Linked DNA regions of Homo sapiens: region 2 is reported to be linked to region 1. The links are microRNA targets in miRTarBase. Many come from high-throughput screens and were not tested one by one. Region 1 holds a microRNA gene; the other region holds the end of a gene's coding sequence.

Region 1 (4,096 bases):
AACAATGTATTTGAGATGTACTTGAACAACAAATGATTTGCTGTTTAGGTGTGGGCATCTTTTTTTGTTCCTAATTTTAAGTATAGGACAAGGCTGGGTACCACGGCTCACACCTGTGATTCCATCATTTTGGGAGGCCAAGACAGGAGGATCACCTGAGGTCAGTTGTTTGAGACCAGCCTGGCCAACATGGTGAATCCCCATCTCTACTAAAAATACAAAACTTAGCCCAGTGTGGTGGTGGTACACGCCTGTAATCCCAGCTACTCAGGAGGCTGAGGCAGGAGAATCACAGGAAGCCGGGAAGCTGAGCTCTCAGTGAGCTGAGATCGCACCACTGAACTCCAGCCTAGGCAACAGTGAGACTCAATCTCAAAAAAATAAAAAATAGGCCGGGTGCGGTGGCACACGCTTGTAATCCCAGCACTTTGGGAGGTCGAGACGGGTGGATCACCTCAGGTCAGAGTTCAAGAGCAGCCCCGCCATCAAGACAAAACCTCCTCTCTACTAAAAATGCAAAATATAGCTAGGCGTGGTGGTACACACCTGTAGTCTCAGCTACGTGGGAGGCGGCAGCAGGAGAATCTCTTGAACCCGTGAGAAGGAGATTGCAGTGAGCTAAAATCACACCATTGCACTGCAGCCTGGGCGACTCCATCTCAAAAAATAAATACATAAATAAATAAATACATAAATACATAAAAAATAACCCAGAGTACTGGAGCAAGAAGATCTCAGGCAGTGACCCTCTAGATGGAAGCACTGTCTGTTGTCTAAGAAAAGATCGTGCATCCTTTTAGAGTGTTACTGTTTGAGAAAATCAACGTTGAAGATGCTGCTGATCTTGGTAACACATTTGCAGAGCGTGCTTATCATCAGACGTGCATGATGTTGGGGTTCTGTTTGTTTTGTTTTTTTTTTCCAAGACAGTGTCTCTGTTGCCCAGACTAGAGTGGGTGGCACCTCCAACCGAGATCTCTTGGGCTCAAGTGGTCCTCTTTTTATTTTTTGATTTTTTGAGACCCACTCTGGTTTCACTGGGAGTGCAGTAGCAGAATCTCTGTTGACCGGAAACTCCACCTCTCAGGTTCCAGTGTTTCTACCACCTCAGCCTGCCGAATCATTGGGAATTCAGTTGCCTGCCATCAGGTCTTGCTAATTATTATTGTTTTTTTGTTTTTTTTTTTTGAGGCGGAGTTTCGCTCTTGTTGCCCAGGCTGGAGGGCAATAGCGCGATCTCGGCTCACCGCAACCTCGGCCTCCCGGGTTCAAGTGATTCTCCTGCCTCAGCCTCCCAGATAGCTGGAATTACAGGTGCCTACCACCCCACCCAGCTAATTTTTGTGTTTTCAGTAGAGATGGGGTTTCACCATGTTGGGCAGGCTGGTCTCAAACTCCTGACCTCAGGTGATCCACCAGCCTTGGCCTCCCAAAGTACTGGGATTACAGCTGTGAGCCATCACCCCTAATCTCAAATGGTCCTGTAGAGTCAGCCTAGACTGTGGTCTATCTTGGAGGATGTTTGTGTGTGAGACAATGTATATTCTTCAACATTGTAGATTCCATTTTGGATGCTTCCATCGGGACTGTGTGCCCCTGTCCTGGAACTCAGCTGAACACTTGGCTCAAAATCCATTGCTGTTCTCTGGAAATTCTGCCCTAATCTCTTGGTTAAATATAAGGTATGTGTAGTAGGCTTTGCTTTTTCTCTTTGGGGACAAAACTCAGGAGGGTTGCCCCTTGGTGAACAAGGCTAACCTGCTGAGCCTTTGAAGCAAGGAACTGGAGATGGTCCTTTTAGGGGTTTATGTTCTGGATTCCAGAAAATATGCAAACAGGGCCAATAAATGCATCTTTATTTTGTGTGTATTTTAACCTGGTCAAGGAAAATTCCAACAAGAAACCCAGAGTGCTGGAGCAAGAAGATCCCATGCTGTGACCCTCTAGAGGAAGCACTTTCTGTTTGTTGTCTGAGAAAAAACAAAGTGCTTCCCTTTAGAGTTACTGTTTGGGAAAAGCAGTGTTGAAGTTGATGCTGATGTTGGTAATATATTTGCATGCTTATCATCAGACTTGGATGATGTTGGGGTTCTGGGTTTTTTTTGTTTTCTAAGACAGGGTCTCTGTGGCCCAGGCTGGAGTACAGAGGCACTTCCAACCTAGGTCTCTTGGGCTCAAATGGTCCTTTTTGGGACAGAGTCTTGCTCTGTGACTCAGGCTGGAGTGCAGTGGTGCAATCTCAGCTCACTGCACCCTCCACCTCCTGGGTTCAAGTGATTCTCCTGCCTCAGCTTCCTGGGATTACAGGCACCTGACATCATGCCCAGCTAATATTTGTATTTTTCTTTTTTATTCATTCATTTATTTATTTTTTAGGTGGAGTCTTGCTGTTGCCAAGTCTGGAGGGCCATGGCACGATCCCGGCTGACTCCAACCTCTGTCTCTCAGGTTCAAGCAATTCTCCTGCCTCAGCCTCCTGAGTAGCTGGAATTACAGGCGCTTACCACCACGCCTGACTGCTTTTCGAATGTGTGCGTATGTGTGTGTATGTGTGTTAGAGAGAAAGAGAGAGAGAGAGATGGAGTTTCACTCTTGTTGCCCAGGCTGGAGGGCAATGACATGATCTCGGCCCATACAACCTCAGCCTCCTGGGTTCAAGTGATTCTCCTGCCTCAGCCTCCTGAGTAGCTAGGATTACAGGCATGTGCCACCACACCTGGCTAATTTTGTATTTTTAGTAGATATGGGGCTTCCCCATGTTGGTCAGGCTGGTCTCGAACTCCTGACCTCAAATGATTCACCTGCCTCAGTCTCCCAAAGTGCTGGGATTACAGGTGTGAGCCAACATGCCCGGCCTGAATTTTTTTTTTTTTTTTTTTTTTTTCAAGTAAAGACGGGGTTTCACCATGTTGACCAGGCTGGTCTCAAACCTCTGAACTCACGTGAGCTGCTCGCCTCGGCCTCCCAAAGGCATGAGCCATGGTGCGTGGCCATCAACACCTCTTACTTTATCGAAATTTTTCTGGCACTGGTATAGAACCTCACGTGGGGTCAGGTGGAGTTGAAGGGACCTCAGTGTCCCTGCAGATGGGATGAGCAAGAGCACGGAGGTGGAGTGCATGGGGCTTCAGTGTTTATTGGGGAAATGAAGCTGAAATCTTGGGTGCGTGACCAGGAAATAAATGCATGAGACGGGGGTCTCACTATGCCACCCTGGCTAAAGTGGGCTTAGATCCTCCTGCCTCTGCCCCCCGCAGTCCTTGCTAGATGGGACTACATGTGAATATTAACCCATGCACAGACAAGAAGAATGTAAGAACCATTATTTGGTTCACACCGGGCCCTCAGTTAAACTTGTATTTTAGACAAACAATGTATCTGAGATGTCCTTGAACAACAAATGATTTGCTGTTCAGGTGTGGGCATCTTTGTTTTTTCCCTAATTTTAATGATGGGACTAGTCTGGGTACGGTGGCTCCCGCCTGTAATTCCAGCACTTTGGGAGGCTGAGATAGGAGGATCACCTGAGGTCAGTTGTTTGAGACCAGCCTCGCCAACATGATGAAACCTCGTCTGAACTAAAAATATAGATATTAGCCAGACGGGGTGGTGGTGCACCCCTGCAATCCCAGCTACTCAGGAGGCTGAGGCAGGAGAATCACTTGAAGCCAGGAGGCTGAGCTTTCAGTGAGCTGAGATTGAGCCACTGCACTCCAGCCTGGGCAACAGAGTGAGACTCAGTCTCAAAAAAGTAAAAAATAGGCTGGGTGTGGGCCGGGCGCGGTGGCTCACGCCTGTAATCCCAGCACTTTGGGAGGCCGAGGTGGGTGGATCACAAGGTCAGGAGACTGAGACCATCCTGGCTAACACGGTGAAACCCTGTCTCTAGTAAAAATACAAAAAAAAAAAAAAAATTAGCCAGACGTGATGGTGTGCGCCTGTACTCCTAGCTACTCAGAAGGCTGAGGCAGGAGAATGGCCTGAGCCCGGGAGGCGGAGCTTGCAGTTAGCTGAGATCGCACCACTGCACTCCAGCCTGGGTGACAGAGCAAGACTCCGTCTCAAAAAAAAAAAAAAAAAAAAAAAGGCGGGGTGT
Region 2 (4,076 bases), not on the chromosome of region 1:
CTACTAAAAATACACAAATTGGCTGGGCGTGGTGGCGCAGGTCTGTAATCCCAGCTCAGGAGGCTGAGGCATGAGAATCACTTGAGCCTGGGAGGCAGAGGTTGCTGTCAGCTGAGACTGTGCCACTGCACTCTAGCCTAGGTGACAGAGCAAGACTCTGTCTTGAAAAAAAATTGCGGTCTGGCTGGGTACAGTGGCTCATGTCTGTAATCCCGGCACTTGGGGAGGCCAAGGCAAGAGGATCACTTGAGGCCAGGAATTCAAGACCAGCCTTGACAACATAATGAGACCCTGTCTTTACAAAAAATTGTTTAAAAAATTAGCCAGGCATGATGAGGCACCTTTAGTCCCAGCTACTCAGAGTCTGAGGTAGGAGGATGGCTTGAGCCCAGGAGGTTGAGGCTGCATTGAGCTATGATCACGCCACTGCACCCCAGCCTGGGCAACAAAGCAAGACCCCATCTCTTTAAAAAAAAAAAAAAAAAAAGTGCAATATGGTTCTGACTTCACTAGACCTCTCTGACCACTAAAAGCCAAATCCTGAGAATTTGGTAAATTCAATGTTCCTATAGGAAGAATGTTATTCTACTAATAATGGCTAACATAACTGAGCACTATGTTGAACACTAATAATTCCTATATCATCCTCAGGCCCCTCTATACTCTGTGGACGTATCAGCCAGATTTTATACATGAGGAAACCAGTGCTCAAAGAGATTAATTGCCCACACACACATTGCTAAGAGGGAGCACAGCTAGCATTTGAAGCCACATCTCACTGTCTCTTTATCATGGCAATGGTCCATGGGCAGAAAGCATAACCCACGTGTACACAAATGAAGATCCCAACAGTCCCCTCTCTCCATAGTAAGGGGGGTAGAAAAGGTGGGACTTGTACCCAGCACTAGACTCTTTTAACAGCCATGAACAAAACATGTATTTAATTGTCTAGGAAACTGTACCATCTATATTTAAGTAAATTGCACCTAGAAACACTCCACCTTGTATCTTTTGTTAAAATCCTATATTTCATCATTTGCTCCAAACAGTGCAAAACTAAACACCAAAATATAAATCGTATACTTGGTATTGGTGCATATTCTGACACACCCACATTTTGCAATGTAATGTCACAATGTAACGTCGCAGCAGGAAGAATTGAGAGGTGAAGCTGTCTGATCTCATCTCACAATTCAGGCTTAGAGTCAACTGGAAATCCAAACAAGCACTAAAGCACGGTCAGCAGGCACAGTACATGTGTGTGTCTCGTGTGTCTCTCACACACGTACTGTCTTTCAAATGCACAGATGCTTCTGTGATTCATACAAATGCATTTGAAAGTATGACTGGATCTACAATAGTTTTAGCATTTCTGTATTTTCTCAAACAGCAAATACTAAACACATGACCATTTTCTGGGAGTTAGGATTCCCAACTAACCCCTTTGAGTTCCAACATTCTGAGAGTTTTAAACAGCAGTTGGCCAGGGGTCCCAAACAGATGATCCTAGGAAAACAGGAGGCTGGGCAGGGGTGGGAATCTAAGGGCTCCTGTCTTGGTCCCAAAAATCTCAGTTTCAAGCAAGAAAGGGAAAAAAAAAAGGCTCCAAAGTGATCAAAATGTTGCTACATTTTATTTTCAACTTAAAACTTCATTATAAAATTTGCCAAATAAACATGTCAAAAACAAACTTAAAAACAAAGTGTAGCTGATATCCAGAAATTGCAGCACTGTATTGATAAAGGGCTCTTTTCATTACCAGGGAAAGAATTTAATGTCCTTCCTTCCTCCCCAAAAGCTTCCTTGGTGCAATCCAGTACAGAAAACGCCACCACTTTCTGATGCCAGGAGAAAAGCAAAATAAAAAAACTGCTTGCACACATTAGCACTGATAAAACAATGACAATTTCACTAAAAGAATGTTTAAAGACTACCGGATGCTGGAGCAAACCAACTTCATGACTGCATTAACATAAGCTAAGTTACATACACTTCAAATGCAGTATAGAATTAACACTGCATATCTAAATGGCTCATATATAAAATGTGTAATTAAAACCCAAACATACACACTATGTTTATTACATTCCCCTACATTGAAAGTACTGAGAACAATTTAACTCTGAACACAAAAGTTTAGTGAATTTGCTACTGTTCCATTACAGGACAATTAAAAATGAGACTATATCAACTTCACTAGAATTTAATTGCTAAAGCTACCTTATGCACATCTATTAAACTAAAAGAAACGACTTTAACCCCTTCAGTTGTTTTTAAGACAGCACTCCTTTACAGGGAGTCAGGTTTGGTAAATATAAAGGATACATAAAAAATACAGTATAAACTGCATAAGCTTAACAGTAGCAAAAACACTGATGAACTTTTAAAAAGTCAAAAATATATAAAAATATTAGCCTGAAATGGCAAATTTTCAAACACCGATCTGTGTAAAAATGTTTAAATATTGATGTTACTCCAAAAATATATACTTATTCTATTTTTTTTCTATTTGCAACAGTTTATAAAGGCAAACAAACACCTGCAATTGAGGTAGCAAAGCCAAATTCACAAACTTTGGATCAAGAAAAATACCCTTCCTATGTTTTAACAGCATCTTCTATACAATAGTGAATGAATTCTAATTGTTCCAAAATTTTTAATTCACATTACTTTACAAAATTTTATTTAAAATACTGAAAATGTTTTGTTAAAAAGACAGTTAGTCCTGACAATCATCTCACATTCAAAATACTGTACAAAAAAATCTGAAGTCACCATATATTACAAAAAACTAAGCTATGTATTTACATTTTCAATGTAGTTTTAGAAGTTGAGGTTAAGCCAACTGCTACAAATGGTCTCCTTTAAGCAGTGTCTGCTAATAATGTCATCACTTTTCACTTTCAGCATTTAATATAGGCCCTTCTTTTTGCTTTCAAATTATATAATTAGTAAAGGATTTAAAGAAAAACAAATGAAAATTCTATTCTCTTACTGAATAAAACATAAATGTACTTTAAATGGAACAGTGTTTTCATTTAAGAAAAGCCAACTGGCAAAAAAACATCAAAATTTGAAAAGTAATCAGAAACCATAAACATCAATAGCATTCTTCACAGTACATTTATATTAAGACTGTCTTCTGTTTTCAGATTAAGGGTTGAAAATTTCCCATTAAAATGCAAATTCTCACATCCTTACTTGTATTTTTCCTATGTTAACTGTAAGTTAATACAAGTAAACACGGCTATATTAAAAGATCAACTACTCGGCTCCATAGTCCTGACTCAAAAAGAAAAAAAAAAGTACAGACCCTGTCAGTGCAACAAAAGAAAGTTTCGGATTTTTTTCCTTGTTTTTGCAAATGGCAGCTGGAATTGCAGGAGTATTTTGTAGAAAAGCCAGAAGAGCATTAGTAGATGTATGGAAATATACGGTAGGGCACACGCTGACAGTACTTTTCCCAAGCCACGCCGTATTTCTTCTTACAGTGGTACTCGTCACGAGCTTCTCGGTGGACAAGCAACATGGTGAAATAAATTATGTAGAAATAAGGCAGAATGTGGTTAAAACCTGTGGATAATAATAGTACACAGTATTAGATATTTTTATTATCACTACAATGTATTTTTTCCTGCTTTCCCCCAAATTCTCTAAAAATGGAACCACAAGGTACTTCATTTTCTCTAATAATGATGAGAATAATTAAACAAGTCTGTAAAATCCCACTGGAAAGTGGCAGAAGGTCGTATCTAAATTAGAAGCTACTCAAAGACTGATGAATCCATTCTAACAATCCATCACAATCAAAACATCTGTCCTCATAGTTAATACACATCTCTTCATTTCTCGCCCTTCTTCCCCCAGCAAAGAAGAAAAACTGCTGTCTTCCACCACAGGCTGGGCCACCAAACAGGCAGCAGGCACGGGCCAGCTCCTCCACCTCCACCAGCTCCCCTGGATCCCCCTGCTCCCCCAGTTCCCCCAGCTCCCCCAGCTTCCCAAGATCCCCCTGCTCCCCCAGTTCCCCCAGCTCCCCTGGCTCCACCAGTACCTCCAGCTCCCCCTGACACCCC

The links. The annotated mature microRNA hsa-miR-520h reads ACAAAGUGCUUCCCUUUAGAGU and lies in region 1 at 1,981-2,002, shown strand. An mRNA with a match to its seed (bases 2 to 7 or 8) in the 3' UTR can be bound and repressed. Matches are read on the target gene's strand: a 7mer-m8 pairs with bases 2 to 8, a 7mer-A1 pairs with bases 2 to 7 and ends in A, and an 8mer does both.
Region 2: the mRNA of LBR is a reported target of hsa-miR-520h. Seed matches in the 3' UTR shown: 7mer-m8 at 1,699-1,705.

The regions. Positions count from the first base shown.
Region 1 is chr19:53,740,586-53,744,681 of GRCh38, forward strand. MIR520H (microRNA 520h) reads left to right here and starts at 1,927; the gene lies at 1,927-2,014. It overlaps MIR517C (microRNA 517c), which reads left to right and starts at 728; the gene lies at 728-822. LOC124904765 (a long non-coding RNA gene) reads left to right here. Exons shown (of 6, transcript XR_007067334.1): 2 at 1,560-1,682.
Region 2 is chr1:225,399,891-225,403,966 of GRCh38, forward strand. It overlaps LBR (lamin B receptor), which reads right to left. Exons shown (of 14, transcript NM_002296.4): 14 at 1,612-3,573. The coding sequence ends at 3,413. Among named protein-coding and RNA genes, the nearest start is that of LBR, 26 kb to the right of the region's middle.